Linked DNA regions of Homo sapiens: region 1 is linked to region 2. A link means that fine-mapping ties the variant in region 2 to the expression of a gene that starts in the linked region. Tissue or cell type: cerebellum. Region 2 holds a variant in brackets; the other region holds the start of a gene. All regions are shown on one strand. Distances are from middle to middle.

Region 1 (4,241 bases), 810 kb after region 2:
GAAAAAAGCTGAAGCATTCCTAGAATGTTGAGATCCCATCCACTTTGGCTGCTCTGGCCAGAATATTTTTGTCTTTAAAAATTAGCAACCATAAAGTGGGTTTTTTTCATGTGTTTCATAAGAAGAGTAAACTGAGAAGAGAGCAAAGTTTGCCTGGTTCCTCCCTTGCTGTACTCCCTGTCTCTACCCGCCAACCCCCCACCCCCACTCCACCCCCACCATCACTTTCACCTCTCTGGTCTGTTTTCTGTTGGACTCATTTCCACTATAATGGTGGCCACTATATCTTCCAATGGCACAGGGGCTGGAGAGGAAATACTGAAGATTAAAATATCACCAGTGTCAGAAAATTAAAATGATGCCTTCTTTCATGGAGGCAATAAGTAGATGCAAGTGTTTGCTATTATTGTCCTGATGTCCTTTGATTATTTTATTGTCCCCAAAAGTAAAGATGTCTTATATTTTTTAAGCTGAGAGGAGCCATCTTGTTCAATCTTCCATGTTTAGAAACAGGAAACTTAAATACAGGAATTGAAACTTTTCTCTCTCTGAATCCAGGGTCTTTCACTCCCATGCCTTCTCAGATCCTTGGCCTGAGTAGTTTAGACCAAGATTACATATTAAAGGTCTGACAGCCGATGTAGCCCACAGTCATGTCTTGCTTGGCTGGCACTGTGCTTTAAATTTTCTTTGAATGTTTTAAGATGGATTATTCACTCTTCAGTTTGAAAAGGCCCTGTCATTCTCCGTAGTCTTACAATTGGCCCGATTCACACATTCAGGTTACTTAACTGGCCTGTATAGGGATGCGGGTTTGTGTATGAAAGTAAAATACATAATATATAAAATCGCGATGCTAGGATTTTGTCCTTCCTGTCATTTTGTAGCTGCTTATCTCTTCAGAGTTGTTAGAAGGCCTAAATAAGCTAACGGATGTAAACCTTTATATAAACTTTAAAGTATGGTTTGCTCATGTGAACCATTATAAATTATGTAACTAACACTTAATTACCTGAGTGCAGATACAATGTCATACACTTTATTTCCCCTTCTTCAAGTCACACTGACATTGGATTTCCAGTTAAACATCCCTTGTTTGGCACAGTGAAGATCTCACAGAGGGCAAGGGATGGAATTATACAAAAGAGAAGAGTCTACGGACTTTTGCAAACATTTTCAAAGTTCCTAGACCTCCAAGAAAGTGCTTGGTTATACACTTTCTAGTACTTAGAGACCAGAGCAAGTTTCTAGGACTTTATAATATACATACTTTGTATTCATTTTATCTGTGGCTATAGCCTTAATCTTGTTTCACCTCTGTTTTCTCGACTACTTCGAATACGTGCAAACCTGACATCTTGTGGAGCCTTCTAAATTGCTTTAAATTCTTTGTGGAACAAAATAGAATATAATCAATAAACATTTATGAGATTAATCCATATGAAACTGCTGTTTCAAAATGGTTTTAAAAACCATTAATGTCACATATTTATAGTACTTGTCTAAATACACTTTAGTGCTTAACTGCCCCATAATTCAAGCTCCTGAGGATGTGCCAGTCCATGTGGAAGGATTATAAGCTAGAGAGGCGGGAGATCTGGATTCTAATCCCAGCTCTGCTACTAAGTACCTGAGTAATTTTGGGCAAGCATCATTTTGCCAAACAAGTAGAATAACCCCAGTCCTGCCTACTTAACAACATTGTTATAAGGATCAAATGGTAGGCAATATGTCCACACTCTCTATAAAGTCCTGTTAAAAAATCTAAGAGGCTATTACACACTGAACTAAGCTCATCCAGAATTCCTCCCACTGAGCCCCGCTCTGTGCCCAGTCCCTTTGGAGTGTGCTGAGGGAAGTGTTCACCACCAATTCTCCTTCTCTTCTAATTACCTGCTCCTTCCTTTCAGCCCCTAACACCCAACCACAATTCCCAGTTTGCCAGTCTTTCCACACATATGATCTCCTTGGCCACCCTCCCCTGACACTTTTGCAAGGAAAGCATTATCAAGTATTTACAGATAGTTAAAATCTGAAGTTCAGACACATTTAGTAATTTTGTCTAAGGGCACACGTTTTTAAGTGCTACAGCTTTGATTTAAACTCTGTTCCTCTGATCCCAAGTTCAGAGCTATTTCACGCAGGGAATTCCACTCAAGCACATCCTCCCACCACTGCAATCTGGCAGCGTTTAAGAGCGCAGCCATACCATTTGCTAGTTCCATAAACCTGGACAAGTTACTCGGCCTCTCTTGCTTCAGTTTTCTCATCTGTAAAATGGGGATACTCATAGGACACAAATTTGTGGTGCACTGGCTTAGCACGGGGCCTTGGCACATGGTAAGCGCTTAATAAATGCTAGATTTTTAAAGAAGTTTGGGTACACCTTCCGAAATCCGGGGAGGCCACACAGTTTGCCTGTAGTTTTCGCGGAAGCTTGGGAGATATCTTTACACTCCGCCTCTTCCTTCTGCAGTCACGGGAAGCAGTTAGAAGCAGATCAGAAATCGAACACGTTTGCTTTTGCGATTCGAGAGCCCTTTCTGGCGCGGAGCTAGGGGCGGTGTTACGTAGCTGCCCTGAACTGAGAGCAGCGTTGGCCGGGGGCTAGGGAGCCGGGCTGTTCCACGCTCACTGTGCGCCTCGGGCGGCGGGGCTCGGGCTCTGTCCGAGGTGCTGAACTCCGGGGCTCCGGCCGCGCCGGCAGAGTGTGCCAGCGTCCATTATTGCCAGTGTCTGTGGGCATCTTCCAGAAGGCCGAGCATGGGGGTCAGGTGAAACCAGGGCGGTAAGTGCTTCTCCCATCATTTCTCAGAAATGCTTAGGTGCCTACTTTTTACAATTTCGTGCACATTTTCAGGATCATAACCTCTCACCGCCAGTTCCTCACAGGTTTCTGCAAAAACTGACGACCTTTCTTCCCCTTCAGTCCCTGCAAAAATCCAGACACCTATCACCCAGCCCCGCTCCGCAACCATTTCCTACAAGAATCCAGGCCCCTACGCATCTCATCCCCACGCGTCAATGCAAAAATAAAAAATGTTAAATCCGCCTTCCATTCCCGTCTCCCACAATTTCCTGTGATAAAAGCAAGCTGTCTCCTACCAGTTCCCCACTCCTGCCTGTGGCTAAACAGCATGGACCGACTTCTCGGGAGCTCGAGGTCCCCACCCGGGTGACCAATGCAGACCCCTGGGGGTGCGCTTACCTGGTGGGGACAATCGCCGAGCGAGGCCACCTGGGTCCAGGCTATAGGTAGTGTCATTATTATTCCCAAAACAAAATCAGGGGGCGTCCAGCACCCCTACCTGCAGCTGCGGGTTGGCTGCCAGAGGGCACTGCCAGACTGAACCAGCGCCGGGAGCTGGGGCTACCCCGGGCCCCGCGGGTCCTGTTGAGTCACTTGCCCAGAACTTCTTCAAGGTTCGTGAATAAAACCTCTGCGTCAGTTCCTTCAAATCGGTCCACCGCTCCTCCAAGTTGCGGTGGGAGCAGGGGAGTTTTGGGTTTGGTTTGGTTTGGTTTGGTTTTAAGAAAAAGAAAGAAGCATGAAAGAAAGATAGGAATCGCCCCCGGTTCCGCGCTGCGGGTGTGCAGGTCTCTGCGCAGCCCCAGACCTCCGGCTTGGTCTTCGGCCGGCTGTGCTGGCTGACGACGCGCTGCTGCCCGCTGGCGCCGAGAGCAGCTCTCCAGCCGCGACGGGCGAGGGTTGTGTGGGTGTGCGAGCTGCGAGGAAGGAGGAAGGAGGGGGCCGCGGGGGTGGGGAAGTGCCTACCTGCAGCCTCGGCAGAGGCGCCTGCTGCCCCACCCCCTCGACCCTAGCTCTTGGGGCTCCGACTCGCTCAGCAACTTAGCAGGGGGCTCCTAGACTCCCCGAGGGTGAGCGCGGAGCAGGCGCGGCCACTCCTGGGGTCCGGAGAAGTGAGGGGACGCTCCCAAAGTCTGACGTTGCAGGTCTCAGACCCTGGCAGGAATTTGAACTCGTGTCCCCTTTGTTCTCTCTGCGGCCCTGCCCTCCTCGGCTTTCCTTCACACACGCCCTGGAATCTCAGGCTGTCTGTCCAAGGTGTAGGAAAGAGAGGGAGAGAGGAGGGTGCAGTGCGATCCTCAAAACTGGGAATAATTTGATGATCAGGGCTGGTTCCACGGCCGTTGGATTTCATTCCAAATCAATGTTTTAGCCCACCCGCTACCTATTCCCAGGGCCTCCTGTGGAGTCGTTCGCGGACAATCTTCGTTTC
Region 2 (4,241 bases):
AAATGAACGAAAGGTCCTGGTTACCTTTTCTTTCAAAAGAACATTTGATTATTCTGAGAAAACTACCAAAATGATTAGAAGAATGAAGTATGGCTTGGAGTTTAATCACATACAAACCATCCATTAGGCATCCAGATTCAGAGCTTTTTGTGGTACTCAGTCTTCTCAATAACACCTCTAGATTTTCACGTACATCCTCCTCCTTCCTTCTCACCCCATTCTGATATAAAATCACCTAATAGGGTGAGAAACTACACATGTGCACGTGTGCCCGACACACACACACACACACACACACACCCCTTAACAACTAAATAGAAAATATGATACTAATGAAATCTTTCTTTGCAAGAATTTCCTTTGGCAACTTCTCTTCCTCCTAGTGGCCAAGTCAAGTAACACCTATGGTGACCATATCTTCTAAATCAAAACCTAGGATGTGTGATTCAACAAGATAGAATATTTCAGTAGAAAAACATAAACCTCTAGTGGGTTGCGGCAAAGAGGCAGTTCAAATTTTTGTGCTACTTCCAAATGTGTGACTCTGTATTTTAAGGGTGTCAAAAAGTTATTATTTCTAAAATATTCCAAAAATTTAGAAGACCAATAAAAAATATTTGAAAACTGGGTTGCCTGAAGATACATGGCTCCTAGAATGGTATCTCAAAATCCCATCACCTGCTATTTGTCTTTTTATATACATTAGCTCAGGTTTCAAAGTTCTAAATAGGAGTTCTGAGCAAATCTCCCCCAAATATGACTCTTTCTCAGACCATTCTCCAGGGTTGTTTTTGCTAACTGCCTACTAGAAATTCACTTAGATGTCTCATTGGCTCTGCCAGTTAAAAAAACAAACAAAAACATGGGATGAGCATGGAGCAGGATTAACTAAGAGCTAGTAGGTAAGTCAGAATTGCAGGACAAATAGTAAGAACAGAATTGAGGGGTCCCATGATAAATGTTTTATCTGCATTGTCTCCTTTCATCTTCACAATATCCCTTAAAGGTAGTAGTAACTATTTAGAATGAGGAAACTGAGGCCTACAGAGATTATGGAACTTGCTCAGGTCAAACAGCTGGTAAGCAGTAAAGCAAGGATTTGAACCCAGAGAGTCTGACTCCAAAGCTCAAGCACCTGAACATGCTAAGACATCAAAAAGAATGAAATGCAGATTCTGACAGAGTTGTGGTCACTGGTCAATTCAAGAGGCATTTCTTGAGTACTTAGGTACTATCAGATACTGAGGATACAGAAAAAAATGTACATCTGGCTTCAAATTCTTGCTTTACTACTTAATAGCTACGTAAGCTGAAATGAAAAAGTTTCTGAGCAGTATGATTTGAATAAGGAATGGCTGCTACTCAGGAAAACAGACAAATTAACAAGTCACAATATAATATGAAACAACACAAATAGAAACAAGGAAGAGAAGTTATACAGTGATTAGCTTCGTTATAGGGAAAGGATTGTTTTGGTTTATGGTGGGAGACTCACCTTAATATTTTGAATGAGGATGAAGGATATTACAGACTAAATAAAACATGATACCATGATTCTACATAGTGCACTCAAGAGTCACAAGTAGACTGATACTCTTAAAATATAAATACCTAGAAGGGTGGAGAGTTAGGCTGGATTCTAGATGATTAGAAAAATAAAAAGGAAAACATAGTTCAAGCATCCAGACAGCAGTCAAGGTCCAGGGCTCAAGTAGGCTAAAACGGACTGGGTGGAAAGCAGAGCTCAGGCAGTATTACAAGGAAAGCTATTCCATTTCCACAGGCAATGGAGTCTATACAAGTGATCATCAATCAGCCTATGGTAAGCAGCTAGAAGGCAGAGATTACATATTCATTTCAATTCAACATATAGTTGAATGCTAGGTCAAGAGAACACAAAGGCTAGGCTGGGAGTGGTGGCTCACACCTGTAATCCCACCACTTTGGGAGGCTGAGGCAGGCAGATCACTTGAGCCCAGGAGTTCAACATCAGCCTGGCAAACATGGCAAAACCCCATCTCTACTAAGAATACAAAAATTAGCCAGGTGGTGGCACAGCCTGTAATCCCAGCTACTCGGGAGGCTCAGACAGGAGAATTGCTTGAACCAGGGAGGTGGAGGCTACAGTGAGGAGATCGTGCCACTGCTCCAGCCTGGGTGACAGAGACTCTGTCTCAAAAAAAAAAAAAAAAAAAAAAAAACACACACACTCACACACGAAGACAGAATATGGCCCCTACTCACAAAGGATCTCACAGCTTTGGTACAAGAGGCAAATATGTTGAATTATTGCAATCTGGTGTGATCAGTGAAGAACAGAAGGAGTTGTCAATTATGAGTAGGTCTTTCAGGAAGATGTGGGAAGATAACAGCTGTAAAAGTGAAAAGGGCCCGAAACAATGTATTTAGAGAAAATGCTGGTAGTTTACTGTGACTGAAGTACAGTACACGTTGAGATGAGGATAC[T/C]GAGATAAGCAAGGGCAAGATTATGGTGGGTCTATTATGGATAAAGATGAGATAAAGAAAAATCCCTCAAATGTTGGGAAAGAAGGGAATCTAGAAAGGTGCTACCCAATATATTAAGTAGCCACCAGCCCTGTGGAACTACGGAGCACTTGGAATGGAGCTAGTGCAACTAAGGAGCTAAGTTTTAATAAATTTAAATAGCCACTACTAACTACCATATTAGACAGCAATGATCTACAGCACACGTAACAGAATTTTCTTATCCAGAAAGAATTTATCTTCCATAAAGAAAAGAGGGTAAATGAAGATACAGGTATTTGTAAATTAAGGAAAAGAAGGGGCAGGAAATTGAGAAAACTCACAAAATTATGTCAATGGTAACAATAAAGCATAAGGAAAGAGTGAGGACGAAGTCGTTTTTTTCTTTTGAGACAGAGTTTCGCTCTTATCGCCCAGGCTGGAGTGCAGTGGCACAATCTCGGCTCACTGCAACCTCCGTCTCCCGGGTTCAAGCAATTCTCCTGCTTCGGCCTCCTGAGTAGCTGGGATTACAGGCGTGCACCACCACACCCCCTAATTTTGTATTTTTAGTAGAGACAGGGTTTCACCATGTTGGTCAAGCTGGTCTGGAACTCCTGACCTCAGGTAATCCACCCACCTTGGCCCTAAAAGTGCTGGGATTACAGGCATGAACCACACTGTGCTCGGCCAAAGTCTTAAAGAATAGAGAAGGTTTAAGATAAGCACACAGAAAAATGGTAGAGGGTTAGGATCAAAAAGGATGGACAAGTCCAAGCTGGAGTTGTAAAGTATAAAGTTTGTAGTAAAGCTTAAAAAAACAAAGCAAACCAAAACAAAAAGCTATAAAGGGTATTGTTGAGACAACTGACAAAACTAAATAAGGACAGTATATTAAATAATATTATTGCATAAAAGTTAAAATTCCTGATTTTGATAACTTAATCACACTGTGTAAGAGAATATTCTTGCTCTATGGAAATATATACTGAAGTATGTAGGGGTAAAAGTCTCCAGCTTATGCTCAAATGATTCAGAAAAACATAGCATGCATATGTATTATATATACAATGCATATATAGTATGTGCATACTAATTTAATTTTTATATATGCATGCATAATACACCCCCAAGGAAAGTAAGAATATGATAAAGCAAACAGGACACAGTATAACAATTGGGAATCTAGAAAAACGATGTATGAAAGCTCCTTGTACTGTACATGCAATAACTATGTAAAAGTTTGAAAATAAATATAAATTAAAAGTTACAAAAAAATTCATAGTAGTGTCAAAACAAAACTATATGATTTCCTCTGATAGCACTTAGAAGCAGAGTAGATGGCAAAACTGGGCAAAGATTCAAAGCTAAGAATACTGGAAGAAAAGTGATTGAAGAGGGAACTGAAGCTAGAGGAGAGAATGAAACAAGAGGTGCTGGGACCAGAAATCTTGATAAAGCTTAAAGCTTAAGAATAAACGTGCTGGGAAAAGGAGAATGAGCATTGGAATGACAGGAGGCTACAGTCAGAAAAGTAGGATATTAAGCATTCCAAATCAGAGTTGTTATTAGTCATTTAGGAAATGCAAATTAATCCCACAATAGAATACCACTCCACATCCACTAAAATGGTTAAAATTTAAAAGACTGACCACACCGATTTTTGATGAGGGTGAAGAGAAACAGAATTCCCAAGCACGACTAGTGGGCATGTAAAAAACTACAGCCACTTGGGAAAACAGTTTGACCATTTCGTA

What was found. PIP is the estimated chance that this variant, and not a neighbour inherited with it, causes the effect. A credible set is the group of variants that fine-mapping cannot tell apart.
Region 1: it holds the start of ANKRD34C-AS1, and the variant in region 2 is the best candidate, but not a certain one, in a credible set for the expression of ANKRD34C-AS1 in cerebellum (GTEx, PIP 0.56).

What each region holds. Positions count from the first base shown.
Region 1 is chr15:79,282,196-79,286,436 of GRCh38, reverse strand. ANKRD34C-AS1 (ANKRD34C antisense RNA 1) reads left to right here and starts at 2,492. Exons shown (of 2, transcript NR_038997.1): 1 at 2,492-2,788. ANKRD34C (ankyrin repeat domain 34C) reads right to left here and starts at 3,715. Exons shown (of 2, transcript NM_001146341.2): 1 at 3,209-3,715. RefSeq lists a silencer at 3,391-3,589 and an enhancer at 3,241-3,780.
Region 2 is chr15:80,087,220-80,091,460 of GRCh38, reverse strand. All of the region lies in intron 1 of ZFAND6 (zinc finger AN1-type containing 6), which reads right to left. Among named protein-coding and RNA genes, the nearest start is that of ZFAND6, 30 kb to the right of the region's middle. The variant T/C (reference allele first, on the strand shown) is at 2,467.